Linked DNA regions of Homo sapiens: regions 2, 3 and 4 are each reported to be linked to region 1. The links are microRNA targets in miRTarBase. Many come from high-throughput screens and were not tested one by one. Region 1 holds a microRNA gene; each other region holds the end of a gene's coding sequence.
The links. Region 1 holds the annotated microRNA hsa-miR-4709-3p (UUGAAGAGGAGGUGCUCUGUAGC, at 2,997-3,019, shown strand). A microRNA usually pairs through its seed, bases 2 to 8, with sites in the 3' UTR of a target mRNA and lowers its output. Matches are read on the target gene's strand: a 7mer-m8 pairs with bases 2 to 8, a 7mer-A1 pairs with bases 2 to 7 and ends in A, and an 8mer does both.

Region 1 (7,123 bases):
CCCTGTGCCTGCAGTATCTAGGATTTTAAGCATACACTGTTGGCAGTTGACTTCAACTTGCTTTCTGTAGGAATCTTCTATCGTTGGGTCATATTTTTCAACAAAAATTCCCTGAACAAACTGAACCATCAGAGCAGACTGCCCAACACCTCCTGAACCAAGGACCACTAGCTCACCCGTGATGTGGTCTGTTTAAATACTGATGATTCCCCCAGTCTGGCACCTCCTCCACCTCCTCCTCCCTCCTCCCTCCTCCCTCCTCCCTCCTCCCAGCTGCGGCTCCTGCTTCGGCTCTGCACAGCAACGGCTGATGCCATTTTTATATACAATATTTCACTTGGATCTCATGACCATCCTATGTAGAGGTGATATTATCTCTATTTTACAGCTGAAGAAATTTGAGCCTCTGAAGTTATGCAATATGAACAGAGTCCACTCCACTAAGAAGCAGTGGAGCCCAGGTTTTGAGCTGGGTCTTATAACTCCAAAGCCTGTGCAATGTTAAAAGATTTTAGCCAGGTACCAAATAATTAAAGATCCAAGTTGTCTTAACATTGTCATCAGAAAATCCTGGTTTCTCCATTAATCTCTTAACAAAACAAGAGAGCAGTAGTTTGTTAGCTCCATGGCAGAGAGGTAGCTTTTTCCAGCCTTCTTTCTGCCCTCCAATCCCCACCTTCACCTCTGACCCATCCCTGCTGCACCTACCTCTTTTTCTACCAAGCACTCATAAGGTAGATCCTGCTGCAGTGGACCTGTATTAAAGATATGTATCTTGATAAGAATGGAGGAAATAGAGGGATGGCCTTTTTCCATGAAGAAAAAGAGCCGCATTTCTTGAAATCAAGTAGAACTCAGGAGCAATATCTGGCCATTTATTTTCTAGGAAAGGTAAGTAATTAAAGAACATTCTAAAGAGACTCAAATATAGGATGTCTGTGCTTAAGGGCTGTTGGAGACCTTAGAGGTCAGGGACAGATTAGTAGATGAATATCCACATAACCATGGGCATGTCTGAACCTCAGTTACGTATGCAGTGACTAGTCAGAGCCTGATACGTAGTAGGTACTTAATGTATGGTAGTTATTGTCTGTTAAATGAGTTACATTTAATTTGAAAAATAGCTCAAACTGCTTAAGCACTAAATGAAGCAGTAGTTAATGTATACTAGTCTGGAAAAACTCACAAGGCAAGTTTCAAGAACCTGAATATCAGTGCCACTCACATGTTCCATTGTGAAGAAACATTAGAGTACAAAAGAGAGGTAGTAACTAGTGACAAGTAAGCTAATGTCCACATAAGAAAGGACCTGCAGAGTGTCAGTGAGTTATCAAGAATTGGAAGGGACCACTCACGTGATATGAGTGTAACAAGTCAAGGCAGGGATTTCTGATGAAGTACATTATTAGAAAGCAGTTTAAGGGCGTTAACTGAAAGTATATTGCTACAAAAGGTTGTCATCCTTGAAATTATTCATACAGCTACAGACTTCTCTAGGCCATCTTTTGTGCTTTGACATTTCCATTTCTAGCTAACAAGAACGTTTCCTTATACCTAAGAATCTAAATTTTTTTTACTCTCTGCTCTTCATGGTTACATTGGGAAAAAGCTGGATCAGATTGCCAAATACATGAGAAATTGCTTAAATGTGAAATTATTCATGTAAGCCTTCATGTGTTAGTCCATTTGCCTTGTTGTAAAGGAATACCTAAGACTGGGTAACTTGAAAAGAGGTTTGATCAGCTCACGGTTCAGCAAGCTGTACCTGAAGCATAGTGCCACCACCTGCTTCTGGTGAGGCTTCAGGAAGCTTACTGTTAGGACAGAAGGCAAAGGGGAGCCAGCGTGTCACATGGCCAGCACTAAAGCAAGAAAGAGAAGGGGGAGGCCCCAGACTCTTTTAAACAGCCAGATCTCATGTGAAGTCAGTGAGAACTCACTCATCACCAAGGGGACGGTGCTAAGCCGTTCATGAGGGATCTTCCTCCATGATCCAATACTTCCCACCAGGCCCACCTCCAACATTGGAGGTCACATGTCAACATGAAATTTCAAAGGGACAAATAACCAAACCGTATCACTTCATTTATATGCCATTGATCTAAGAGAGAAGAGAATGCTTTAGAAATTACATTTGATAAATTAACCAAGTTAGTATGTGGTGCTGCTAGCATCAAATCACAAGTATAACTTTGTTCACTCTCTTAAGGCTGTAAGCTGTGCCCACATGCTAAGCAGCCCTCATGATTTAAGAAAAAAAGTATGAGGAGTTAGGAAGTTTGCTACTGTACATCTAGGATTCATAGTTAAACCAATTATGGATAGAAGTCAGGTCCTATTTTCATTTTTCTCAATTATTTTTCTCTTTCTCCAGATAAAACTGGTGGTGGAGTGGCAACTTCAGGATGACAAAAACCAAAGTCTCTTCTGCTGGGAAATCCCAGTACAGATCGTAAGTCTATCTGGGGGTGAGAGGGCATGGGTGGAGGGAAGAAAGTGGAGGAGAAATCAGACTGAAACTAAATCAGTGCCATAAGATAAAAGGAATTTCAAGACTGCTGTTTTATGCCTCTCAACCTCTAAAAGCATCTGAGACCCTATTTCCTGAGAGCTCAGAACTGTTGCCTTTGTAATATCCTTTGTTAAAAAAAAAAAAGGTTGAAGGAAAGAAGAGAGAGTGAGACTGTAGAGATTGATTTAACTGTCTTCATTGGTTTTTTTCTGTCGGAGTAAGGAAGGTCCAGCCAGACAGGACCTGAAGGAGGTTGCTTAGGAATGTCTGATAACTTGCCCTAGGGTTATTGCCCTGACAGTGGAGGAAAGGTTCCAAACCACTTCCACTGAGCTGGGACATTACATCCACAGGTTTCTCATCTCTAAGTGCCTCATTGAGTTCGGTGCATCTGGCCAATGAGTCTGCTGAGACTCTTGACAGCACCTCCAGCTCTGCTGCTTCAACAACAGTGACTTGCTCTCCAATGGTATCCAGTGATTCGTTGAAGAGGAGGTGCTCTGTAGCAGAAACTGAGCTCCGGGTGGCTGGTTCTCAGTGGTTGTCTCATGTCTCTTTTTCTGTCTTAGGTGGTTTCATTAAATGCAGCACTTGGTTAGCAGATGTTTAATTTTTTTTTTAACAACATTAACTTGTGGCCTCTTTCTACACCTGGAAATTTACTCTTGAATAAATAAAAACTCGTTTGTCTTGTCTTCTGCATGTGGGCTGTGGTCTTCTCCTGCTCCTTTCAGGGTACATTCTGCTAGAACCATGGAAGGCAGGCCCCCAGTTCCGTGGTCCCAGAGTGCACTGAAGACATGACTTTTTCAGAAACTCTTTTTCCTCCTTTTTGTCCAGTAAGACCATATCTATTTTATATAAAATGGCCTTGTTTTGCTTTATTTGACACAATCTTATACCACCAAGCATGCTCGAAAGAAGCAGTGAAAGTAAAAATCACCTAGTTGAATAATAACGCCTGAAAGGTTGAAGGAACTGAATTTGGTGGGGAGGGCAGGTAGGGGTTAGGGATTACAGGTTAGGATGAGGCATGGTGATCTTTTGGGAACACTGCTGTGAAGAAAGCCTAGAAGCTTAAAAATGAAATGTGAAGTTGTAGCAAGTAATGGCTAAATTAATTAAATCTTGGAGTTTCCTATCTTAAAGTACAAGTATAATCATGGGCATATATTTTGCCACCTATTTTGAGTCAGTATACTAGCAGTCAGCTCTTAGGTGGTACAGGGATTACAACCCCATTCACAATTGAGTTGAATAACATGGACCTTAGGTCATCCATTGTTAGGGCAAAAGGAAGGAACATTCATACAAAGTGCTTGTGAGCAAGTGATTGATTTGATCCAGTTCTTTTCATCCCACTAATTTCACTAGACCCTTGGATTTCTTTGGTCTGTGAGTTTCCCAGGAAAACCACCAGGGGACAGTGATGGATCAGGAATACAGTTATCAACAGCCAAGCTTTCCTAGTTAATGCTAGGAGCCAGTCAACCAGTGTACTTTTTACCTAAGATCTTTTGTGTATCCTGCCACATTGAGTCTAGAGTGACAGTCCACCTTGTCTCCCATACCAGACTCTAGATGTATCAGAATTGTGTGAATTCCTGAGGCTGTTAACTGTTGTGCGGGTCTCTGGCTTCGGACTGCCTATGGTTGAATCCTGGCACCAACAATTAACAGGACTACCAGTGTGATCTTGAAATCACTTCATCTCTCTGTGTGTCAGTCTCCTTATCTGTTAAATAGGACTAATAATAATAGGGCTGTGAAGACTAAATGAGATGAGGCATGTAAAACACTTAGAATGACCCTGGCTATAGTATATACTCTCTAAATGTTAGCTGTCACTCTGGGAGACAGACATTCTTCTTTGTCTACAAATAGCAGGAAAATTAGAAGGTTCAATCTGAGATTTGATGATGTCTCCTCAGAAGGATGAGGCTATCCTCTGTGCACAAGAACTTTCTGAAAGGCCTGGAAAAGCTCAATTCTCATGTGTCCACTGTCTCCCTATTCCCAGAAGATTTCTCATGCCATTTAGCTCCTTTGAAGTTAACAGCTACCCACCCTGCATACTCCTCTGCCCTTGTGTTAAAAGAAGACAGGACTCACAATACCATGCAAAATGAGTACTTGCCTCTAGCTAGGAACAGTGCCTACTTCAGGGAGAATTGATTTTGATACAGCTGACTAGTTTGAGTGTTAAACTATTTTGGAAATAATTTACATATCTAAGTTCTAAAATATATTTTTCTTTCCTCCACTTATTCTTCAAATTTGAAACAATGTTTTAATACTGTATATCTTTCATTGTTTATAACTTGCATTCTTTGTGAAAATTTGTTCTTAGGGACAAAAAAATTCTTAATCTTTTTATGTGTAAAGCAGGAACAGACAGATAATACATAAACAGATACATATTATATCTGCGGTATTAAAATTTGGTGGGGTGGTCGATTAGGATTAAAAGGTCCATAAAAGCTCCTGTAAGGAGTGATAATGAAAAGGGTGGGGAAGCACTAAAGACAAAGAGTATAAGTAGATATTTCAGAAATCGAAATTAAAAAGTATTTCGGCTAGTTTATACCCTTCCATCAGAGCAAAAGGGGAACACAACAGCTTGTGACTGTTTGCCAGCCATCGCGGGGCTACATGAAGCCTGCAGCCGTGAGCTAGGTAGGGCTCCCGTGGGGGGATTAGTTTGAAAGGTCGTCTTCTACAGACAGTTCACAGACGCCCCCGTGAGTCATTAAAACATTGAGAAGCACTGAATCTTAGGTATATCAAAAAGGTCATCCTCTTTCCAATGACCGTCTCATGCTTTTCTAGTCCACGGAGCAGGTTTTGGAGGCTCAGCTCTTACATGAATTCCAGGACAGATAAATCCCAGATTCTAATTGTTGAAATAATAATGAGGGGCACCCCTGCTTATAGAATAAAGGGAACCCAACACCTCATATCTCCAGTTTGGGAAAAGGTTAAATATGAAGACTAGTATTCAGTCAAATCTTCATACTAATAAAAAGCAACAAGCATGGAGTAATTTTAAATCCTGCATATTTGGTTTTTAAATCTTAGTTGACTTTTTTTAAAAGGAACAGAGTGATCTTTTTTTTTTTTAACACAAAGTCTTTCAGAAAAGAAACAGGGTGATCTTGATTATGCTTTGGAAAGGTTGATAAAAACAGCTTGTTCTCTGAGAACACCCTCCAGACATAGGAAGAGTGGCTTGAAATAGGTGAGGTCAACTAAGAGAAAATGATCTGGGATCAGCCATTCACTTCAGATAATCCAAAAAGCAATGGTTAAATGGGTTGGTACAAGGACAGGGTTACAGTATATAAGAAAAGCATTAGCACAGAAAAAGGAGTCGTGTAAGAAAGTCGCCAAGGTGAAAGTCACGTTAAACAAGTGTTTTTCCCAAGGAAGAGACAGAACAGGAAATAGAGGTTGGGGTATGCCTTATTTAAAGGCCTGGAACACTCAGGCGAGGGTGTGTGTGTGTGTGTGTGTGTGTGTGTGTTGGGAATGGGGCTGGGGGGAGACAGGGTTGTGTGTGTGTGTGTGTGTGTGTGTGTGTGTGTGTGTGTGTGTGTGTGTGTTGGGAATGGGGCTGGGGGGAGACAGGGTTGAGTGACCCAAAGTAGAAAGTGGCTCTGGATCTCCACAGATGTTGCCTGAAAGTCTTTGAAGGATTTGAGTCATTTTGGGTGGTTGTGTCTTTTTCTCTGAAGAGAATTCCTCAGCCTATCCCTAGATTCTAAACTGAATCCGATTCACTTACAGCTGTCAGTTGACTAGCAACTAAATGGTCTGGGTGTTGGTTGCCATGGAAACAGCTAAAAGGCCCATTGCTATGGGAACCTACCAGGCTCTCCAAACCAGGGGTTTGGTTCCTAAAAAGGGGTGGAGGGGAGGGTGGAGACCAGGAGATGGCCTGCATAGGTGGCTCAAGGGTCCTGGAAGAGGGTGGGCAATGTGGGTGAGTGGATCCGGCCAGCTCCTCTCGACTGGGGCAGAAGAACAGTGACCTCTTCTACTTTCTGCAGATGTTCCCATGCCTGTTCTCTGCTCACTGCCCAATGCTAGCCACAGAGCACAGGTGTTTGCAGTTGCAAATGGAGACTAAGAGCCTGAGATTCTGGAGCAGACGTGGCATGTCAGTGTGGCTCCCCTCACCTGCAGGGGCTTGGAGAAGGACGGCTCCCTTCTAGCAGGCCGTCCTCCACAAATCATATGTCCCAGATAAGCAGCCAGCAGGCAGAAAGATCAGCTTAGCTCTGACTGCCAGTGGGTAAGGCCAAGAAGGAGCCTGGCAGACAAATGGATGGCTGCTGGCCTTGAACATGGCAGAGCTGCTGGGTGTGCCAGATCAAAAAGCAGAGAGCAGGCCAGCAGCAGCAGACTGTTCTCAGCGCTGGAGAAATGCATTGCTCTGCCCACTACACCCTCAACCATCCATATGCCTCTGCCACAAAGGGGGATACTGCAAATGGATCAACATAGGAAAGATGAGGTTTGATGGAGATTCTCAGTGTACACACACAATGCTTGTAAGATTCTTTTCTGTTTTGCAATCAAAGTAACTCTCACATTAGTGTTTAGTGGTAA
Region 2 (7,123 bases), not on the chromosome of region 1:
TTAGCCAGGTGTGGTGGCGGGCGCCTGTAACCCCAGCTACTTAGGAGGCTGAGGCAGGAGAATTGCTTGAACCCGGGAGACGGAAGTTTCCGTGAGCCAAGATCATGCCACTGCACTCCAGCTTGGGCAACAGAGTGAGACTCCATCTCAAAAAAAAAAAAAAAAAAGAAAGAAAGAAATGGTTGAGGGTGAGAAAGACCTGTGAAAATGGCAGGTTAATCCCTAAATATGACAATTTCAAGTCTTCAAGTCTGGCACTGGGACAAAGTGAAGAAAAAAAAAAGATCAATATGTTTCTGTGCATCACACGACAAACTGACAGTTTGAAGGTAGTAGTGTCAGCTCCTGTTAAGCTAAGGAATGGGGTGGGAGAGTATGTCTAGAGAGGACAGTTAGGTTAAGACAGATTTGAGGATGCAATTTTTGTTGTTGTTGTTTTGTTGTTGTTGGTGGTGGTGGTGTTGAGATGTAGTCTCAGTCTGTCACCCAGGCTGGATGGAGTGCAGTGGTGCGATCTCAGCTCATTGCAACCTCTGCCTCCCGGGTTCAAGCGATTCTACTGCCTCAGCCTCCTGAGTAGCTGGGATTACTAAAAAATTAGCTGGCTAATTTTTTATTTTTAGTAGAGTCAGGGTTTCGCCATGTTGGCCAGTCTGGTCTCCAACTCCTGACCTCAAGTGATCCACCTGCCTTGGCCTCCCAAAGTGTTGGGTTTATAGGCATGAGCCACTGTGCCTGGCGGGATGCAATTTTTTCCATCTACTCAAAGGAAAGGGCCAGTTGCAGTGGCTTGTGCCTGTAATCCCAGCACTTTGGGGAGCCAAGGTGGGCAGATCACTTGAGCTCAGGAGTTTGAGACCAGCCTCAGCAACATCATGAAACCCAGTATCTACAAAAAAAAAAAAAAAAATACAGAAGTCAGCCGGTCATGGCAGTGCACACCTGTAGTCTCAGCTACAGGGGAGGCTGAGGTGGGAGGATTATTTGAGTCTGGGAGGTTGAGGTTACAGTGAGCTGTGATCATGCCACTGCACTCCAGCCTGGGTGACAGAGTGAGACCCTGTATCAAAAAAGAAGAAGAAGAAGAAGGAAAGGAGGAGGAGGGGGAGGGGAAGAGGAAGAGGAAGAAAAGAAAAGGAAAGTCTGAGATCATTCCCCCCCAAATGAACTTTTATAAGCTGATTGAACTTGACACCAGCGCCACCTGGTGATGCTAATGAGTAACTGCAAGGTAACGGTTTTCTCATCAGTACACTACGAAAAGTTACTAAACGTTTGTATATGTAAACATATATATAATTCCATCATAGGAGCCAAATGTGATTTTAGAAGCGAGGAAAATAGCGAAGATGATTTTTAAGAGATGAAGAAGGATGAGGTATGTAAACCGAAAGGCAGCAACAGTTATCAGATAAGAAAAGCATGTAAGCTAACGTCAGATGAGTCATTAGTAGAAAGTTTACATCCTTATAGTATGGACTATGTGTTTATATCCTTACATGTAGGGGTTTGCTTTAAGTTCTAGGTAATTATTCCTTCTGATTAATAAAGCGCCACCTTCTTCCGCCACTAGGTGCTGACCCAGTGAGGGTGCCTTCTGCTGCCCAGTCCCCTGGACACATTGAAGAGAGGAGCAAGTAGCCCTGTCCTGACATTGACCCTGATTTGACCCCTCTTCTTATAAGGATCTCAAGAATCTCTTCAGAAGCACTGATGACGTTGATCCCAGTAAGGACATCACCTCTACCCTTGGTACCACAACTCTGTATGGGGTTGCCCAGCTACTCTTCCTTTCAGTTGCAGTCCCAATTTTACTCCGTCAGAAAGCAGCCCTCCCCTCCCTCCCCTTATGAGGTCTCAGGCAGTGGTGGCAGATTTTTCCTGAAGAGTCTTTTTCCTGTGTCTGCCTTGTTATTGGAACCAATGCCAGCTGGTAGGATCCCTGAGCCCCTTGCGATATCACCACCAAGAGCCTGATAACTGAGCAGGGTGGATCCTGTCCCTGGAGCTGCTGCACCCATTAATTCTCCCTTGTTGCAACTCTGTGTACCAAGAACCCCTAGCATCAGCCTCATTCCTAAGCCAATAACGCCTGTATGGAGTTGGTTTCATCTTCTGGTGCCCACGGCCATTGGCATTGCCAGCCTCATTCCATGCCACTATGAGTCAACTCAGGAAAACTGCGAGTGCATTTGAGGCTTAGGGGTAGTCATTCCATCTTTAGATTATCCTTGGACTTCAGCTACCAGCACAGCATGCATTAGCCTTGGTCCTGTAGGTTAACTGAAGTTCAAACATCAGTGCCAGCTTGCCTCCATCCTTTTCACATATTATGCAGGCCAATTGACATATAATTTGTTCTTAAAAATAGGGGCATGAAATATGTGATCTGGAAAAGATTGTACTTTCTGGACTCTTTTCCCACTCTTGCCTCTTTGTGCTGCTGTTTCGTATCCTCCTCACACCGTGTATTTCCCACCCACTCAGGGTCACAGCCTACTAATTCCTCAAACTTCTCTCCCTGGACTAGGAGAAAGGCTAAAGAATGTCAGTAAATAAAAGAGCTTTCATCCAATCCCAAGGCATATATTATGCCCAAAAAAGACAAATTGTGTCTGGGGTAGAGAAAAAAGGCCTAAAGAAATTGCTTCTTGGCCTTTTGCCTAAGATCAAGTGGAGAAGACTTGTAGGAGAAAAAGAAGACCAGTGCTCACAAGTGGGGCAAGCCTGGCTTGGAGAGTAGGAGTCCTGGACAACTGTGGAGCTGGGTCAGAGGCTTCCCGGAGCCTTGTGATTATGACTTTGTCAGTGCTCTAAAATTTCCCTGGAGATTGATTCCCTGGGTGCCCAAAATAGGTCCCTGGCATTCAGGTCCTTTCTGCCCAGCTCACCTTCTCCCAATTTCCTAACAAATTTGAGTCCTTGGAGTGGCTCCAGGGATGTGTTCACGGACCAGAATCCCACATTTCCTCGGGGGCATGCTCATAGGTAGGTCCAGGCCTTGGCACAACAGTCATTTCTAGCCTCTTGAGCTTCTTTTCCTAGGGTGATATAAGAAAAGGCCAGGGAAGAACAAAAATGAGCCAGAGGTGTTGGACAAGAGGCTTGATGTAGTCCCTGGAGCTGCTGTTCTGAATCACACAGTCTTGAGGAGGAGGACCAGGGTCACTGGCTGAGCCTGTGGAGGAGGCAACCGCTACTGACTCTAAGTCTGGCAAGATCTTTCCTCCCACCCTGAGCTATGTATGGGTGCCTCTCACACAGGCAGATTTAGATTCTGTGTCACTGTCCTGGAAGAAGGGCCCAAGCCAGAACAGGGGTCCCGGGCTGAGAGGAGCCTTCAGAGTGAGAGGGCAGCACCTTTGCTGACCCACCTTTCACTGTAAGCAGTGGCACTCACCCCTGCCCTTGCTCAAGGGAGTCACCCATTCCTGAGTGAGTCAGGGTCACTCACTCCATGACAGCTGTGGCTCGCCTTACATGAGCTAAATTGGGAATTGGAATGTCATGCAGATGCCCCTTGTCTCCCAACCCCCACAGTAAAATTAATCTGCTCTCTGGGGAGTAAGGGACAAACAGTGCTACCCACAGAGTGAACAAGAGAGAGTCATTTGGGAAACAAAAGGAGAATTTTACAGAGAGAGAGGGATAGCTAAAACTACGTGAGCCTGGCGAGGGTGCAGAGCAGAAAGTAGAGACTGTCCGAAGACTGCTATCTGGGACGAGACAAGTTGTTAAAGGGACAGGAGAGAAAGCAGAGCTATTTCAAGAGTGAGCCACAGAAGGGAATCCAGAGGCCATCTAAGCGAGGAAGGGTCTACAGGCAGTGAGTGAAGGCCAGGAGCAGGGCCCAGGCCAGGCACGACCACCGAGGGGATGAACTTCACAGTGGGTTTCAAGCCGCTGCTAGGGGATGCACACAGCATGGACAACCTGGAGAAGCAGCTCATCTGCCCCATCTGCCTGGAGATGTTCTCCAAACCAGTGGTGATCCTGCCCTGCCAACACAACCTGTGCCGCAAATGTGCCAACGACGTCTTCCAGGTGGGTGCCAGGGACGGGGCAGGGCCAGGTAAAGCAATGCAGACCTGTGGGGGACTGATCAGGTCAGAGCTGAGACCCCAGAAGGTGATGGATAGAGTGCTCTCTGAGGTGGGTGGTGGCTGTTGTGGCTGGAGAGCAGAAGGGCTGGGGTCCAAGCAAATCCCAGAGCAAGCATGAGTCAGCAGCTGCCCTGCAGGCTGGCAGGTACAGCCTGTGCATAGACGGCAGCTGGAGTGCTGGGATCTACCAAGGAAAGTAGACCCTGTGGAAACTGGGAGGGAGGGTATCCCACACCGGGCTTTATAAGAGCCTGTGCCAGACTCTGCATTCCAGTTTGGAGTTTCAGACTTCGAGAGCATTGTGGAAAATACGGAGAAAAGATTAATGAGATAATGAAACGTTAAAAAACAAACAAACAAAACCCGACCCTGTGAGAAAGCTCCATAATGGCAGTAAAACTATTTGTATTTAAGGAAAGTTGAAGGCATCCATTGTGGGTGACAGAGTTAGACATAGTGGGCAGGAGACTGGGAACTCTCCCCAACTTGAGTTCATACCTGTTACCCTCCAGATTGTTCAGTAAAGAGGCCTACTGGTTAAAAGCTACTGAGGTCACTTGACAAGCAGGGAGAAGGCAAAGAAATTTACTTCTCAGAAGTCCAGCCAGTTTTGTTTTATCTGTGGTCATGGGGCCAAGCAGAGCTAATCAAATTCACAGATACTAGTATAGCCACTGGTTTAGAAATAAAAGCAGCATATACCAGAATGGATTATAAGTGGGCTTTTTTTTTTTTTCCTGTGCTACTGGGGAGGTTCTAGTAGGCTATAAAATGGAACAGAGATCAGGGAGAGTGAGGGGCAAAGGCACACACACACACACGCGCGCACACACACACACACACACACACACACACACACACACGGCCTTGCCGTTAAGTAAAAGCCCTGAATATGGCCAGGTGCAGTGGCTCACGCCTGTAATCCCAACACTTTGGGAAGCTGAGGCCAGCAGATCACGAGGTCAGGAGTTCAAGACCAGCTTGGCCAATATGGTAAAACCCCATCTCTACCAAAAATACAAAAATTAGCCGGGCGTGGTTGCAGGCGCCTGTAGTCCCAGCTACTCAGGAGGCTGAGGCAGGAGAATCACTTGAACCCAGGAGGTGGAGGTTGCCTTGAGCCGAGATCATGCCACTGCACTCTGACCTGGGCGACAGAGCAAGACTCCATCTCAAAAAAACAAAAACAAAAACAAACCCCGAATAGACCAGAGCTGGCTGGTTTAGTATGTGTGTCAGTGACATGGAACATCCCAAACAAGTATTCTTCATCTGTGTCAGAAATGATGAGGAAATGTGTTAAACACAAGTGATTTTTAACCTAACCAAGAAAATACTTCCCTTTTTAAGTTCCTTGGGGCAGCTTGTTTTGGAAAGGAATGGGCTGGCTAGGTCAGGCCATCCCACAATGTACCCTGTGACCCACACCTTGTGTGTCTGCTCTGTGCCACCTTCACTGAAGACCAGCACTCTGTGGTCTCTCCTGCCATCTTCCCATTGAGACCCATTCCCTCTCCTATTCTTTATGTGTCCAAACCTGCCATTATTCAGCTCCAGAGTATCTCAGAGCCAGTAGATTTTCCCTCTCGGGGGGCCTAGACCAAATGCTGTGCCTCCTCGTCCTGGGCATGAAGTCCTACATGAGAGGCAATGCTTTGCCCACCATCTTGGTTTTTCCTTGGTCTAAGTAACTCTGAACATCCTTCAGGCTGAGATGCCTAGGAGGGAAATGGCAGAAAGATTTTGCCATCCTTTCTCATGAACTTACAGTGAAACATCCTCACACTGGAACTTGAAATGTGTGAAAGCAAAGAGAAGTTTTGAAAGCTAAGGTGATGTGTCCTGTAGAAAAGTGGTCAGAAGGGCCAAGTGCATTCCTGGGTCCCTCTGTCATCTGGCAGAGGAATAGGCCCCATACATGGAGGCTAGAATGTGTTTAAGTGACCTGCTTATTTAAGTCAACTCTCTCTATCCAAGCACACTGTTTCAGTTCCAGAAAGCTCTAGAATACGGATCTGGGCTCAGAGAGACCTTGGAATGGCTTGGGGCAAATCCTGTACAGAATATTTGGAGATAACATGATACCCAGGGCTTTGGGGTGGCTCTGTGGATCTGGAGTGGTGTATCTTTTGAGGTGCAAAGCACCCTTGGGCCCTCCAAGGAGGAAGAGTGAACAGCTCATCCCTTGCTGCTTATTTGGGAGGGCCTGGTGGGAGGCTGACCCAGTTCTTCAGCTGCACTTAGATCTGTGTATCTCAATATATCTCAGTAGATCTCCCTCTGAAAGATGAGCATATTTAGTTTTTTCGCACATTGCCTCCACATTTTGACAACTGTAGGCATAATCAGATTGTCTGTTTTCTAAGTATGGGGCAAGAATAGGACTTTTGGAAAGAATAGGACTTTTCCTCTACCTTCAAACCACTTAGGAAGAATACCCTTAGAGCATTGCCTAGAAAGTTAACGGTTATCAAAGTGATACCAGTATATCACTTAGAATTTGTAACATGTAAACATACTGTTTTCAAGCAGTATAGGAGTTCATATCATGAAAAGCAAATCTGCTATTCACCTCAGACCCTCAGTTGTCTCACCAGATAGAAGTAACTATTACCAACTTTCTTGGGAATACTTCCAGAAAATTTCCACAAATCGGCACATTTGCATGTATATGTGTTCTCAGGCGAGACCCATCGCCCCCCACCTGCCTTTGTTCACTTACTCGCTGTGGGTGATTGTTCCATATCCACCATTCAGATTTATGTCTTCGTTTTTAAATAGCTGTGTAGTTTTCATTGTTATGACTGGACCACAGTCTATTTAAATAATCTGTCCTCTAAAACATTTAGATGGTTTTCTGTGTTTTGTTGTCCTAAAAACTGCCGTGATGGACAACAAACAAGAGTTTTTGGGAATTGTGATTTTATAAGACCAAGTTAACTAGACAGCCAGGAAGCAAAATTTGAAAACAATTTATTTAAAAATACTGGCTACGTAAGGTGGCTCATGCCTGTAATCCC
Region 3 (7,106 bases), not on the chromosome of region 1:
AAAAACAGATGCATAGACCAATGGAACAAAATAGAGAACACAGAAACAAATTTACACACCTACAGTGAGCTCGTTTTTGACAAAGGTGTCAAGAATATACCCTGGGGAAAAGATAGCCTTTTCAATAAATGGTGCTGGGAAAACAGGATATCCATTTGCAGAAGAATGAAACTATAACCTTATCTCTTGCCACATACAAAAACAAAATCAAAACTGATGAAAGATTTAAATCTAAGACCTCAAATTATGAAACTACTAAAATAAAACATTAGGGAAACTATTAGAACATTGGTGTGGGCAAAAATTTTTTGAGTAATACCCCACAAGCACAAGAAACAAAAGCAAAAATGGACAAATAGAATCATATCATGTTAAAAAGCATCTGTGGAATAAAGAAAATAATCAAGGTGAAAGACAACCAACAGCATGGGAGAAAATATTTGCAAACTCTCCAAATGAAAAGGGATTAATAACCAAAATTTATAAGGAGCTGAAACAACTCTATAAGAAAAAAATCTAATGATCTGATTTAAAAATGGGTAAAAGAAAAAAATAAAAATGGGTAGAAGATTTGGATAGATATTTCTCAAAAGAAAACATAAAAACAACAAACAGGCTTATGAAAAGATATTCAGCACCATTGATGATCAGAGAAATGCAAATCAAAACTCCAATGATACATCATCTCACCCCAGTTAAAATGACTTTTATCCAAATGATAGGCAATAAACAGTGCTGGTGAGGATGCAGAGAAAAGGAAACATTCATACACTGTTGGGAATGTAAATTAGTACAACCACTATGAAGAAGAGTTTGGAGCCTTCTCAAAAAAAACTAAAGATAAAGCTACCATATAATCCAGCAATTCCACTTCGGGGTATGTAGCCAGAAGAAAGAAAATCAGTATATTGAAGAGACATCTGCACTCCCATATTTTTTTGCAGCACTGTTTACATCAGCTAAGATTTGGAAGCAGTCTAAGTGTCCATCAACAGATGAATGGATAAAAAAAATATGGTACATATACACAATGCAGTACTATTCAGCCATAAGAAAGACTGAGATTCTGTCATTTGCAACAACATGGATGGAATGGGAGATCATTGCATTAAGCAAAACAAGCCAGCCACAGAAAGACAAACATCACATGTTTTCATGTATTTGTGGAATCTAAAAATAAAAACAATTGAACTTATGAGTATAGAGAGTAGAAAGTTGATTACCAGAAGCTGGAAGGGTAGTGGAGGGTTGCAGGAGGAGGTGGGAATGGTTAATAGGTACAAAATTTATTAGAATGAATGAATAAGACCTAGTAATTGACAGCACCCCAGGTGACTATAGTCAAAATAATTTAATTGCGCATTAAAAAATAACTAAAAGGGGATAATTTGATTATAACACAAAGGATAAATGCTTGAGGGTATAAATATTCTATTTTTTCATGATGTGATTATTATACATTGAATGTCTGTATCAATATATCCCATGTATCTCATAAGTGCATTCATTATTTGTGATAACACCAAAATTAAAAGTTAAAAAGCATCTCATACTTTTCTCTGTTGTTATACATATTCTCCAACTAAAAATGATGGTGGGATTATGGATCAAAAGATTACAAGGCAAAAGATTACAGGGACCATGTCTTTAAAATTAAAACTTTCAAAATATGTGTAAATACTTGCTAATGTGAGTATATGTCAACACTATTTACTTCTTTCACTGGATGTTAGGGAAAAAAGGAACGGGGTGGATCCTTCTGGGTAAAGGAAAATAGTTTCACTAAATTCTTGTCTTTATTTCAGAAAATGCCTGCCCTTCAAGGCAGATAAGAGAGTATTTTTTTAATATATTTTAAGTCTAATTTTCCCCTTTTAAGTCAAATTCTTCTTTTCTCTTTGGGTGACATTACTGATTATTATTATCTCCAATGGAAGATAGCTACATATATGAATGGAGGGAAAGAGAAGTCGTTTGGAAATGAAAGACTAACAGAAAAAGAACTCATATTATTTGAACCCAATTCATTTTTACTTTGATTCCTAGTTACGAATTCTAATTCTATCCAACCTTAGTTTTAAGAGTCTTGGCAAAGAATTGTAACACAGGCAATTTTGGCTTCCTGTATGCCATTCAACCTGCTGTCCATTCTGCAAGCCATCTTTCTTAATTATAAATCTGACTATAAATAACGCCCCTGTTTAATAATATTCTAAAATAATTTACACTGTCCCCAGGACAAATAATTACTCCTATATATTTCATCAGTACATCTAATCTTTTCAAACCATACTTCAACTTTTACATTGCAACCATACAATTTTTTTAATTCCCAAATTTGTCTTATCGTTTTGCACTCTCAATTTTGGTGCGTGATTTTTCCTCCCCCTTATAAAATTCTCTTTTTGATATAACAAATTTATCATAATAAAAGCATGCACACTTACATGCAAACATAAGTCTCTGTGTTCTGTTTTCCTGTCAATTTTTAACACCGTTAATAACTCAAATTAAACTCCTATTTTTCATTGTACCACCACTAGTCTCTAAATTGCTGGGAGTTCTCACTCCACTGTTGCCTGCACAACCCTGGAAGTATAAATTTGGAAGGTGAGGGGACAGAGGCTGACTTAAGGCTGCCAGTGATACTCCCTTCACTATTTCAAAAAGTCGCATAAGTGATCTCTTTTCTTCTCTCTCCAATTCTGTTCATGTGTCAATTGGGGTATTGTTTATCTATCACACTCACTTGGGTTTTTTTGTTTGTTAAATATACAAAAGACTGATACTTAAATCATTTTTTAATAATAAATATAGGTTTGCCACTAAAATTAAACAATAGAAAAGTTTGTAAAGTGGAAAAGGATTATCCACACTCTTTAATTTGACACAAGGTAACCCCAATTATATGTTTAGCTTGCATCTTTCTGAATTTTTTCTATGCTTTTGTAAAACACTTAATATATTACCGATTTTATTGATTTCCTTAATCATTGGCTTCCTAGTATCCTTGACCTTTGCTTCAACCCTGTAACAGTCTTATGACTTGGTTTTGGCCAACATAATGCAGTAGAAGGATCTCGTGCAATTCCCAGCTCAGGCTTTATGAAGCCTGGTGCTCTTCTTCCTCGTGGACACCTGAACCTAAATGAGGACGAGCCTGAGCCACATTGCTGGCTAATAAGACACATCATGTGGAAAAGAGCCCAGCTGCCCCAGCCAGCCAAGGTCATTCTAGACCAGCCATGTGCTTTCCAAACATATGAGAGATCCCAGCCTTTCAGTAAAGATGCCTACCCCATGCAGAGGTGATCTCAGACACATGGATAATCTCAGCAGAGTCAAGACCTACCTAGCTAACTGGTAACCTTGTGAACAATAGCAAATGCTTATTGTGTTAAACTACTGAGGTTTTGGGTGTTTTGATACCCATAAATAAATAACTGGCAGACACATATTTACCTATACCTTTTTTCCTTATAGCACCAGTATCATATATTATCAACAATTTGCTCCATTTGTTTAATCTTTGCTTCACAACATAGGACAAACCCTTTAAAAATTCAACACATTAAAATTCAATACTACCTGATTTTTAGAAATCTATAAATTATTAAAAGTGTCAATTCAATATAATTTTAAATATTTTGTCAAAGTAATACATTCATGAGACAGTCCATAGTACAGAAAAGAATACAATAAAAATCATATTTCCCAGTACAACTCTCCCCACCTTTAGTCCCACATACTAGAGGTAATTTCCTTCAATTATTTTTGTTTTGTTTTGTTTGGCAGTAACATTTGGAATTCTCAATAATGACTATTATACCTCTGTGTTTCCCGAAATATAGAACATAAACAATGCCATTGACTACCTGATATGAAAAATGAGATGCAGCTCACTTACATAGCCACATATCTGGTCTATTCTACCTAATATTTGATGATGTCATGATGTTCATACTTTTTATTGATTAATTGTGGAACAATAAATAATATATTTAATCCTAATTTCTTCTTTCATCAATGTTGCTCAGTAGTTAAATTTTCTCTATGTAAGTTGATTAATGTTGCCCTCATACCTTCTCACTTTCAATTATATCATTATATTTTTGCAATTTTTATCGTAGTAAAATGCCATAACAAAATTACAAGCTTAACAATTTTAAGTGTACAGCCAAATAGTATTAAAATACATTCATAATTTTGCACAACAATCACCCATCTACCTCCAGAATTCTTTCTATCTTGTAAATCTGAAACTTTATAACCATTAAATGACACTTCATTTTCTCCTGCCCTAGCACCTGGCAATCACCATTCTACTTTCTGTCTCTGTGAATCTGATAATCTAGGTACCTCATATAAGTGTGATCATATTGTATTTTTGTGTGTGTGAATGGCTTATTTTACCTGGCATAATGTCCTCAAAGTTCCTCTATATTTTAGCATATGTCAGAACTTCCCTCCTTTCTATGCTAAATTATATTTTATTATATCTATATACAATATTTTACTTATCCATTTTTCAGTCCATGGATACTTTCGTTGCTTCCACATTTTAGATATCATGAACAACGTTGCCATGAATATGGGTGTATAAGTGTATCTTTGAGACCCTGCTTTCAATTATTTTAGGGATGTACCCAAAGGTGGAGTTTCTGGATCCTATGATAATTCTAGCTTTAATTTTGTGAGGAACTTCCATACTGTTTTCCACAGTGGTGCCATTTGACATTGTCACCAACAGAGCACAGGGTTCCGATTATTCTACATCCCTGCAAACACCTGTTATTTTGTGTTTGTTTGTATGTTTTGATGGGAGTCATTCTAATGGGTATGAGGTGGTATCTTATACTTTTAACACCATCTTCTTTCATTCTATTGTTGGCGGTAAGTCACAGCCAGTCGTCTTCATCAGCCAAGTATAGATGTTACATGAGCCATAAAACTCGAAAATCTAGTTAGTTTCTTCCACTTCATTTTCACTCGTCCACCATTTTCATTGAAATTATATTGTCTATTAGAGAATCTAAAAAGATACAGTTCATACAATCTAAAAAGATACAGTCTTTACTTTTATTGAAATACCAAATATTGACTATGCAAGCTATACTGGTAAATGTGCTCTTTGATGTTGACAGAGGAGGGCTGGGCTGCCTGTGGTTTCCTGCAGAAGAGAGAAAGGACAGAAGGTCAAGATGGTTACCCCTCACTGCCTTCATCCCATCCTTCATTATGATTCTTCTTCCATCTTCTGCCATATGCTTTTGCCATTTCCCTCGACTTCCATCTGTGACCTCTGTGTCTATTTAGTGAAAAGTACTCAGGAATATCTTTGTAAAACCTAAGTTAAATTATGTCACTTCTCTTTTCCAAAGCACTGGAAGGGTTTCCTATCTACTCAGATAATATTTTTTTAAAGATTTACCATGTGATGTTCAAGCACATTGTGATGAGGCTCCTCACTGTTTCTCCTAATTTGTCTCTGTCAGTTCCCTCACTTGCATTCTCTTTTGGTCACACTATCTCATTGTAGTTCTTTTTAAACCTGTTCAGCATATTTCTGCCCCAGGGCATTTGCACTTGTATTCTGTGCTGGAACACCTCTCCTGCATAAGAACCACATGATTCACTCTCCAACTCTGTGCATTCTTTATTCCAATTTCATTATTTCAAGGCAGGTTTTCCTGAATAAAGTACCTATAGTTGAGCATGTATTTTCTACAGTCCCATAACTGTGGCTGAATGTCAGTAATGAGACAGCCAAGTAAAAAGGGCTCCCTGGCAGAACCTCCCACCAGACTGTGCACTGGGAAGAATGCACACTGGGGTGGAGCCTTGGGAAGTTCATGCCATTTGCAGCAGGGAGAAGCCTGGCCCCTCCTCTTCCTGGGTGGTACCTGGTATTCAATCTGCGAGGCAGGAAGGGCATTAGCAGGACTCTGGCTCTGTGAAGGGTCTGTTTCCCATTTTTTTCCTTTTCACACAATAAACCCTGCCCTCCTCACCTTTCAGATTGTCTGTGAGTCTAATTTCTCATGGTCGTGTGACAAGGACCCCATCTTTAGCTGAACTAAGGAGAAAGTCAACAACAGTAATGTGATATGTGCACTCAGAGGACCAAAGCCCTGCTTTCCCCATAGATAGCTCCTGTGTTTACTCTGTTTTGTTCAAGGTCTGATGCACTGTTTGGTAACTAAGTGTGGCAGGTGGGAGAGAAACAGAGAGAGAGACAAAGAGAGGGAGTGTATGAGAGATAAATGAACATAATTAATAATGGTAATATTTGTACATTATTATTTTAATAATTACTAACCTAGGACTTTCATTGTGTATTACATTTTGCTGCAATTTTCCTTACCCTTTGATTGATTATATAGTTGAGGGAAACTAAATGCATATAAGTAGAATAAAAAAGAGCAAATAAATACTCACCAGACTACATCAATAAAGAACACTAACTTGACCATATAAGCAGTCAGCTGTCATTGGTCATTGAACTTCACCACCGATATAGCTCTTTCATTTATTTCACCCTCCAACAACTCTCAATACTTACATTTTCAATTGCCAGGAAAGAGGTAGAAATCTCTTGTCAAGGTTGCTCGTTCTATGGTGGGCATCTGGGCTTTAGCCTGTGGAACTTCAAATGATTTCTGTACCTAAAAGAAAAAACAGTAGATGAGATATGAGGGATTTTGGGTTCTCAGAATGCATCTTACACCATGAACCAGGAAATGCCTGAATGAAGAGAGCTTCCAGGGTTGATAGGACCAAGCCCATGGATATTCCAACTCCTTAACACTGCTACTCTACCTCTTAGAATTGACACCCCATGTCATACTGTACACTTTACATCAAAATAAACACTGCATGCCTAGTCAAGGCTTTTCAACCTCCATTTTCTCTATTTTCCATTTTTGACCTACGGATGTGGAAATCAATTAAATATCCTTTGGGATATGCTCATGAGAACTGGATATGGAAGATTTAGTACTTTCAACCCCCACCAACGCTGATTCTTCAATTTAAGGAGAATTAAATCCCAGAATCTTGCTTTAAGGCCTGAACACTGAACAACTTTCATGCCCACACCACCATGC
Region 4 (7,109 bases), not on the chromosome of region 1:
GACTACAGGCATGTGCCACCATGCCTGGCTAATTTTTGTATTTTTAGTAGAGACGGGGTTTCACCACGTTGGCCAGACTGCTCTTGAACTCCTGACCTCGAGTGATCCGCCCGTCTCGGCCTCCCAAAGTGCTGGGATTACAGGCATGAGCCACCGCGCCCGGCCAAAATGGGAAACTTCTAAGTATTTCTTGAAGGGACCAATGTTAGAATTGCATTTTAGAAGAACCCATCTGGCAGATGGATGATAAATGTACTGGAGGAAAAAAGCCAGAAGCAAGGAAACCTGTCAAGGAAAACACTATTAAATAAATAAATAAATAAATAAAGTGAGCTTCAAGTAGTAACAACAGAGATAGCGAGAAAGGATCTTGTTTGGGAAGAATCAGGAGCTAGATGCTAGATTGGGTGTAAGAAAACCTAGGTGCATCATCAGATTTATAACTTTGGAGATGAGGTAGATTTAGTATACAGAGGTAGGAAATACAGAACAGTCTAACAAAGAAGGGTAGAGGCCGGGCACAGTGGCTCATGCCTATAATCCCAGCACTTTGGGAGGCTGAGGCAGGCGGATCATTTGAGGTCAGGAGTTCGAGACGAGCCTGACATGGTGAAACCCTGCCTCTACTAAAAATACCAAAAAAATAAAAAATAAAAAAAAAATAAGCTGGGCGTGGTGGCGGGCGCCTGTAGTCTCAGCTACTCGGGAGACTGAGGCAGGAGAATTGCTTGAACCTGGGAGGCAGAGCTTGCAGTGAGCCGATATCGCGCCACTGCACTCCAGCCTGGGTGACAGCACGAGACTCTGTCTCAAAACAAAACAAAACAAAACAAAAAAAAAAAAACGGCCGGGCGTGGTGGCTCACGCCTGTAATCCCAGCACTTTGGGAGGCCGAGATGGGCAGATCACGAGGTCAGGAGATCGAGACCATCCTGGCTAACACGGTGAAACCCCGTCTCTACTAAAAACACAAAAAAATTAGCCAGGCGTGGTGGCGGGTGCCTGTAGTCCCAGCTACTCGGGAGGCTGAGGCAGGAGAATGGCGTGAATTCGGGAGGCAGAGCTTGCAGTGAGCCGAGATGACGCCACTGCACTCCAGCCTGGGCGACAGAGCGAGACTCCGTCTCAAACAACAATAACAACAACAACAACAACGGGGGTAGAGTGAGGGTTGATACAGGTGACAAGTCTTACTTGGGGCATTTTGTGTTTGAGATGTTCATGGCACAAGTTGAAAATATGGATTTATAGATTTGAAAGTCATTAGCACATATGTGGTAACAGAAGAGATGGCTGTACCAGATGCAGCTAGGGACAGCCAAATAGTCACGCACACAAACAGCCATAGCTTGCTGCTGGTTTTGGAGGTGGGCGCGCTTCTCCCTCATTCTTGGTGTTCCTCTCCACTGAGGGGGAGCTCCGTGAGCACAGCACTTGCAGCCTCTGCCTCCTCACCCACTTTGCTCAGGTCATGTGCACGCTGGGCTCTCCTGTGTTAGTTTTATGACTAGTAAAGGTGTCATGTTGATCTTACAGTCACACTGGGGGTTAGGGATTCAACCTGTGAATTTGGAAAGGGGAGGGGACATGATTCCGTTCATAACATGGGGTTACATCTTACTGAATGCCTACTCTTTTTTTTTTGAGACAGGATCTTGCTCTGTCACCCAGGCTAGAGTGCAGTGGCATGATCTCAGCTCACTGTGACCTCCGTCCTGGGTTCAAGTGATTCTCCCATTTTAGCATCTCGAGTAGCTGGGGCTATGGGTGCATGCAATCACGCCCGGATAATTTTTGTATTTGTAGTAGAGACAGGGTTTTCCCATGTTGGCCAGGCTGCTCTCGACCTTCTGCCCTCAAGTGAACCACCCATCTCGGCCTCCCAACGTGCTGGGATTACAGGCATGAGCCACCGTGCCGAGCCCTGAATGCCTACTCTTGACTAGACACTATGTATTTCACATTCATAATCTCATGTTCATCCTCACATTATAGTGTCCATTATTAACTTGGCCTTTATTTCCAGAATCTGAGTACTGGTCATGAAACAATTTATACTCCCTTACTTAGGTGACCAGATTTGGGGGCAAAGACAGCTTAGATAGAAACTTCTACTTGGCTCCTGATAAGCATGAGCATCTGGGAAGTTCCAGGTAATGCTTACCACAGTTCCTTTCTCCTTTCTTGTTTTTTGTTTGTTTTTCTTTGAGACGCAGTTTCGCTCTTGCTGCCCTGGCTGGAGTGCAATGGCGCGATCTCGGCTCACTGCAACCTCCGCCTCCTGGGTTCAAGCATTCTCCTGCCTCAGCCCCCCGAGTAGCTGGGATTACAGGTGCCTGCCACCACGCCCAGCTAATTTTTTGTATTTTTACTAGAGACAGGGTTTTACCATGTTGGCCAGGCTGGTCTCAAATTCCTGACCTCAGGTGATCCACCTGCCTCGACCTCCCAAAGTGCCGGGATTACAGGCGTGAGCCACCGCGCCCTGCCCTTTCTCCTTTCTTTCTTTTTTTTTTTTTTTGAGAGTCTCCCTCTGTCACCAGGCTAGAGTGCAGTGGCACGATCTCAGCTCACTGCCACCCTTGCCTCCCGAGTTCAAGCGATTCTCCTGCCTCAGCCTCCTGAGTAACTGGGACTACAGGCGCGTGCCACCAGCCCAGCAAATTTTTGTATTTTTGGTAGAGACGGGGTTTCACCATATTGGCCAGGATGGGCTCCATCTCTTGACCTCGTGATCCGCCCGCCTCAGCCTCCCAAAGTGCTGGGATTACAGGCATGAGCCATGGCGCCTAGTCTCTCCTTTCTTAAAGCTACCCCTCCTCCTTGTTCTCAGCTCCTCCCCATTCTCTACCTGCACTTGGTCACTTTCTTCTCCTAATTCCTGCCTCGGTTTGACCTCAGAAGCACTCCTTATTGCTGTTTCTGTGCCAGTCCCCCATGTGTGGACTGGGAGTGATTCTGTAGGCCACTCCATGTACTGCAATCCATCACCTAACTCATACTAGAGAATGCCTGTGTTACCAGTATAGCTGAAAAACAGCATTTATTTTTGTAGATGTGGCTGATTTTCATAAAGGTACCCTCCCCTCACCATTATATTAAATGGAGAAAGTAAAACTTACAGAGCTCTAGTGTCTTGCCCAAGGCCAGAGCGAGGGTCTGTTTTATTTTGTGGGACTTACTCTAAGCCCTGTGCTTTCTGAACTACGTCATGGAACTGCCCCTTCTCTTCTGTGTTCTACTCAGCCCCATGCTTTTGCTTCAGCCACTCAGGGTAATATCTCTCACTGACATTTATAATCCTTTAACTTCTTCTTTGACCTCTTTCTGCAGCATGTGGTACTGTGGGGTACTCATTATTATTATTATTATTTTCATTTGTTTAGAGATAGGGTCTCACTCTGTCACCCAGGCTGGAGTGCAGTGGTGCAAACATGGCTCACTGCAGCTTTAACCACCTGGGCTCAAGCAATCCTCCCACCTCAGCCCCCAAGCAGCTGGGACTACAGGTGCACACCACCATGCCCTGCTAATTTTTCTAAGTTTTGTAGAGATGGGGTTTCGCCATGTTGGCCAGGCTGGTCTCAAATTCCTGACCTCAGGTGATCCACTCACCTTGGCCTCCCAAAGTGCTCAGATTACAGGCATGAGCCACCGTGCCTCACCCATTATCTTTTAAAACTCTTTCTGAAAAGCATTTTTTAAAAATGTCTTTATTTTCACATTATTTTATTTTTAGTTCTGAATCTACCTGTTAAACTGTTGGCATTTCATTTATCTGATCACTGGCACTTTAGTTTTGTTTTTTGAGGTGTACCACATAAATAGCAGCCTATTCCCTACCCACAGGACTGTCCCAAACACAGGCGGCACCTTTTTCCTCTTTGTATAGATGCTGTGATTCTTTTTTCCTTTTTTTGAGACAGAGTCTCGCTCTGTCCTCCAGGCTGGAGTGCAGTGGTGAGATCTCGGCTCACTGCAAGCTCCGCCTCCCGAATTCACACCATTCTCCTGCCTCAGCGTCCCGAGTAGCTGGAACTACAGGCACCCGCCACCACGCCCGGCTAATTTTTTGTATTTTGTATTTTAACACGGGTTTTCACCGTGTTAGCCAGGATGGTCTTGATCTCCTGACCTCGTGATCTGCCCGTCTTGGCCTCCCAAAGTGCTGGGATTACAGGTGTGAGCCACTGCGCCCGGCCGACGCTGTGATTCTTGTAGCGACTTTGATCCCAGCAGATTCTGACTTCGGTAACTGGGGACCATGTTTTGTGCAACACACACAAAATTTATGAAGGTACTCAAATTTCCTAAGGAAGGCTGTAAGTTATCCTAACAGTAATGTCAAAGGCTGGGTGCGGTGGCTCATACCTGTAATCCCAGCACTTTGGAAGGCCGAGGTGGGCGGATCACGGATGTCAGGGGATGGAGACCATCCTGGCTAACATGGTGAAACCCCGTCTCTACTAAGAATACAAAAAATTAGCCAGAAGTGGTGGCAGACGCCTGTAGTCCCTGCTACTCGGGAGGCTGAGGCAGGAGAATCACTTGAACACAGGAGGTGGAGTTTGCAGTGATCTGAGATGGCGCCCCTGCACTCCAGCCTTGGTGACAGAGCGAGATTCCATCTCAAGAAAAAAAAAAAACGAGTAATGTCAAAGATTGACAGTCTGAGAGACAGATGAGGGTTTGCCAGAATAGCCTGGAAAATCTTATAATGTTAGATTAGGCGACAGGGCAAAAAAAAAATAGTGGTGCTGTGGACTGACAGTATTTTATCCTTTGGTATTTTCCTCAGAGACCCTAATGTTAAGTATAGTTCTTTGAGAACTGACATAACACTGTTGAAAATGCAGAGGGGTTAGATAAATAACACTGCCTGTTACTCACAGTGGTGGACTTTTAGGTGATTTAAGTAAAATTCAGAAGGAAAGAACACATGGGTAATCATTTTAACAAATGAGATAGTGGAAGACATTTATTTTTAGCAATATGGAAACATTCCAAGAAACAGAAGCCCTCTCACCATCTGAGAGAAAATGAAAATCCACTATGAGAGAAAACTGAAGACTTTAATACAGATTTAAGTAAAATGGCCTGGTAATGGAAAAGCTGACTGAGGAATATGTTCCTGGCTGTAACATTTCTTCACTCAGGCTGTAGTTTCTGAATTTAATGAAGGGATTATTGGATGACACTGAAGAGATCGTTGGACTAGCAGATCAGTGTGAATGTTTCCTCCACAACTGGCACGTCTTTCCTATGACGATTATTGAGGGAGATGTCTCTTTGACTGTCTATGGATTATTTGGAACTTTTGTCAAGGAGCCATAGAGTTCTGCAGACCACACACCTGTCCAGTGTGTCTGTAGCCAGTATTTTGTGATTTTTTTTCTTTTTTGAGACAAGATCTTGCTCTGTCACCCAGGCTGGAGTGCAGTGGTGTGAGCATGGCTCACTGCAGCCTCTGCCTCCTGGGCTCAAGCGATCCTCCTGCCTCAACCTCCCAAAGTAGCTGGGACCACAAGCATGCACCACAACGCCTGGCTGACTTTTATATTTTTTGTAGAGATGGAGTCTTGCAATGTTGCCTAGGCTGGTCTCAAACTTCTGGGCTCAAGCGATCCTCCCACCTGGGCCTCCCAAAGTAATGGGATTACAGGCGGGAGCCACTGTGCCCGATCTTACCCTGTGAATCCTTCAACCTGCCTCAACTTGAGCCAACAGAGCTGCTGGCACCTCCTGAAAGCCGACTGCGTGACTGCTGCATGGCCTGACCTAGAGGCTGGAGGGCTTCTCTTTGGCATGCACTGCAATGTGGGTCTTGAGCGCCCCCACGTACGTGAAGCTCCTTCCACACTCATCACAAGAAAAAGGCCTCTCCCCACTGTGAAGGCACAGATGGGCCTTCAGGCTTCTCTTCTGGAGGAAGCCTTTGCCACACTCGGGACACTGGAAGGGCCTCTCTCCACTGTGCTTATACAAGTGGACCTTCAAGCTGCCCCTGATGCAGTAGCTCTTGTCACACTCCGGACACTGGAAGGGCTTCTCCCCGCTGTGGACTCGAATGTGTTCTGTGAGCCGGTACTGTTGAGTGAAACTTTTGCCGCACATCACACAAGAGAATGGCTTTTGGCCACTGTGCTGCAGCAGGTGGCTTTTCAGGTTTCCCTTGAGGCGGAAAGTCTTCTCGCATTCAGGACACTGGTAGGGCTTCTCTCCACTGTGCAGCCTCAGGTGCTCGGTGAGCTGAGACTGATGCGTGTAGGTCTTGTCACACTCACCGCACGCGAAGGGCTTCTCGTCCCTGTGCATCCGCTGGTGGAACTTCATGGAGGCCTTCCAGGAGAAGCTCTTGTCGCACTCGGGACACTGGAAGGGCTCCTCGCCACTGTGAAGCCTCGTGTGCTCTGTGAGATGCGCGCGTCGGCGGAAACTGCGGCCGCACTCGGCGCAGGAGAACGGCTTTTCCGTGGTGTGGACCTTCAGGTGCTGCGTGAGCCGCGACTGCTGAGAAAAGGTCTTTTTGCACTCGCCGCAGGGAAACTCCTTCTGCCTGTCGTGGACTCTGGTGTGGCAGGCGAGCTTGGAAGGCCGCGTGAAGCGCTTGCCGCACTCGGCGCAGGGGAAGGGCTTTTGCTCGCTGTGCAGGCGCTGGTGGGCGCGCATGGCGTTCCTCCAGAAGAAGCCCCTGCTGCACTCCGGGCACTGGAAGGGCCGCTTCCCAATGTGCTGCAGCCCGTGGGCTTTCAGGCTTCTCTTGAGGCGGAAACTTTTGTTACACTCGGGACACGAAAAGGGCTTCTCTCCCGTGTGAACTCTGATGTGCTCGTCCAGCTTAATCTTGTAGATGAATTTCCTGCCACATTCACCACAAGAAAACGGCTTTTCCTCGCTGTGCGTCCTCTGGTGGGTCTTCAGGGCAGCCTTCCGGGAGAAGCTCCGGCCACACTCGGGACAGTGGAAGGGCCTCTTCCCGCTGTGCTGGGTCAGATGGACCTTCATGCCCCTCTTCAGGCGGAAGCACCGGTCACACTGCGGACACTGGAAGGGCTTCTCTCCGCTGTGCAGCCGCAAGTGCTCCGTGAGCTCGCACTGCTGCACGAAGG

Region 2: miRTarBase lists DNAJC5G as a target of hsa-miR-4709-3p. Seed matches in the 3' UTR shown: 7mer-m8 at 1,698-1,704.
Region 3: the mRNA of CASP5 is a reported target of hsa-miR-4709-3p. The part of its 3' UTR that is shown has no 7-base or 8-base seed match.
Region 4: miRTarBase lists ZNF425 as a target of hsa-miR-4709-3p. Seed matches in the 3' UTR shown: 7mer-m8 at 5,199-5,205.

The regions. Positions count from the first base shown.
Region 1 is chr14:74,476,031-74,483,153 of GRCh38, reverse strand. It overlaps MIR4709 (microRNA 4709), which reads left to right and starts at 2,950; the gene lies at 2,950-3,021. NPC2 (NPC intracellular cholesterol transporter 2) reads left to right here. Exons shown (of 5, transcript NM_006432.5): 4 at 2,375-2,452; 5 at 2,866-3,214. The coding sequence ends at 2,880. It also overlaps a transcript of SYNDIG1L not described here and the pseudogene RAP1AP.
Region 2 is chr2:27,278,856-27,285,978 of GRCh38, forward strand. DNAJC5G (DnaJ heat shock protein family (Hsp40) member C5 gamma) reads left to right here. Exons shown (of 7, transcript NM_173650.3): 6 at 1,311-1,378; 7 at 1,574-2,644. The coding sequence ends at 1,360. TRIM54 (tripartite motif containing 54) reads left to right here and starts at 3,574. Exons shown (of 9, transcript NM_187841.3): 1 at 3,574-4,044. The coding sequence starts at 3,877.
Region 3 is chr11:104,989,178-104,996,283 of GRCh38, forward strand. It overlaps CASP5 (caspase 5), which reads right to left. Exons shown (of 10, transcript NM_004347.5): 9 at 6,563-6,665; 10 at 5,066-5,170. The coding sequence ends at 6,567. Among named protein-coding and RNA genes, the nearest start is that of CASP4, 24 kb to the left of the region's middle.
Region 4 is chr7:149,097,834-149,104,942 of GRCh38, forward strand. ZNF425 (zinc finger protein 425) reads right to left here. Exons shown (of 4, transcript NM_001001661.3): 4 at 4,951-7,109. The coding sequence ends at 5,779. Among named protein-coding and RNA genes, the nearest start is that of ZNF786, 11 kb to the left of the region's middle.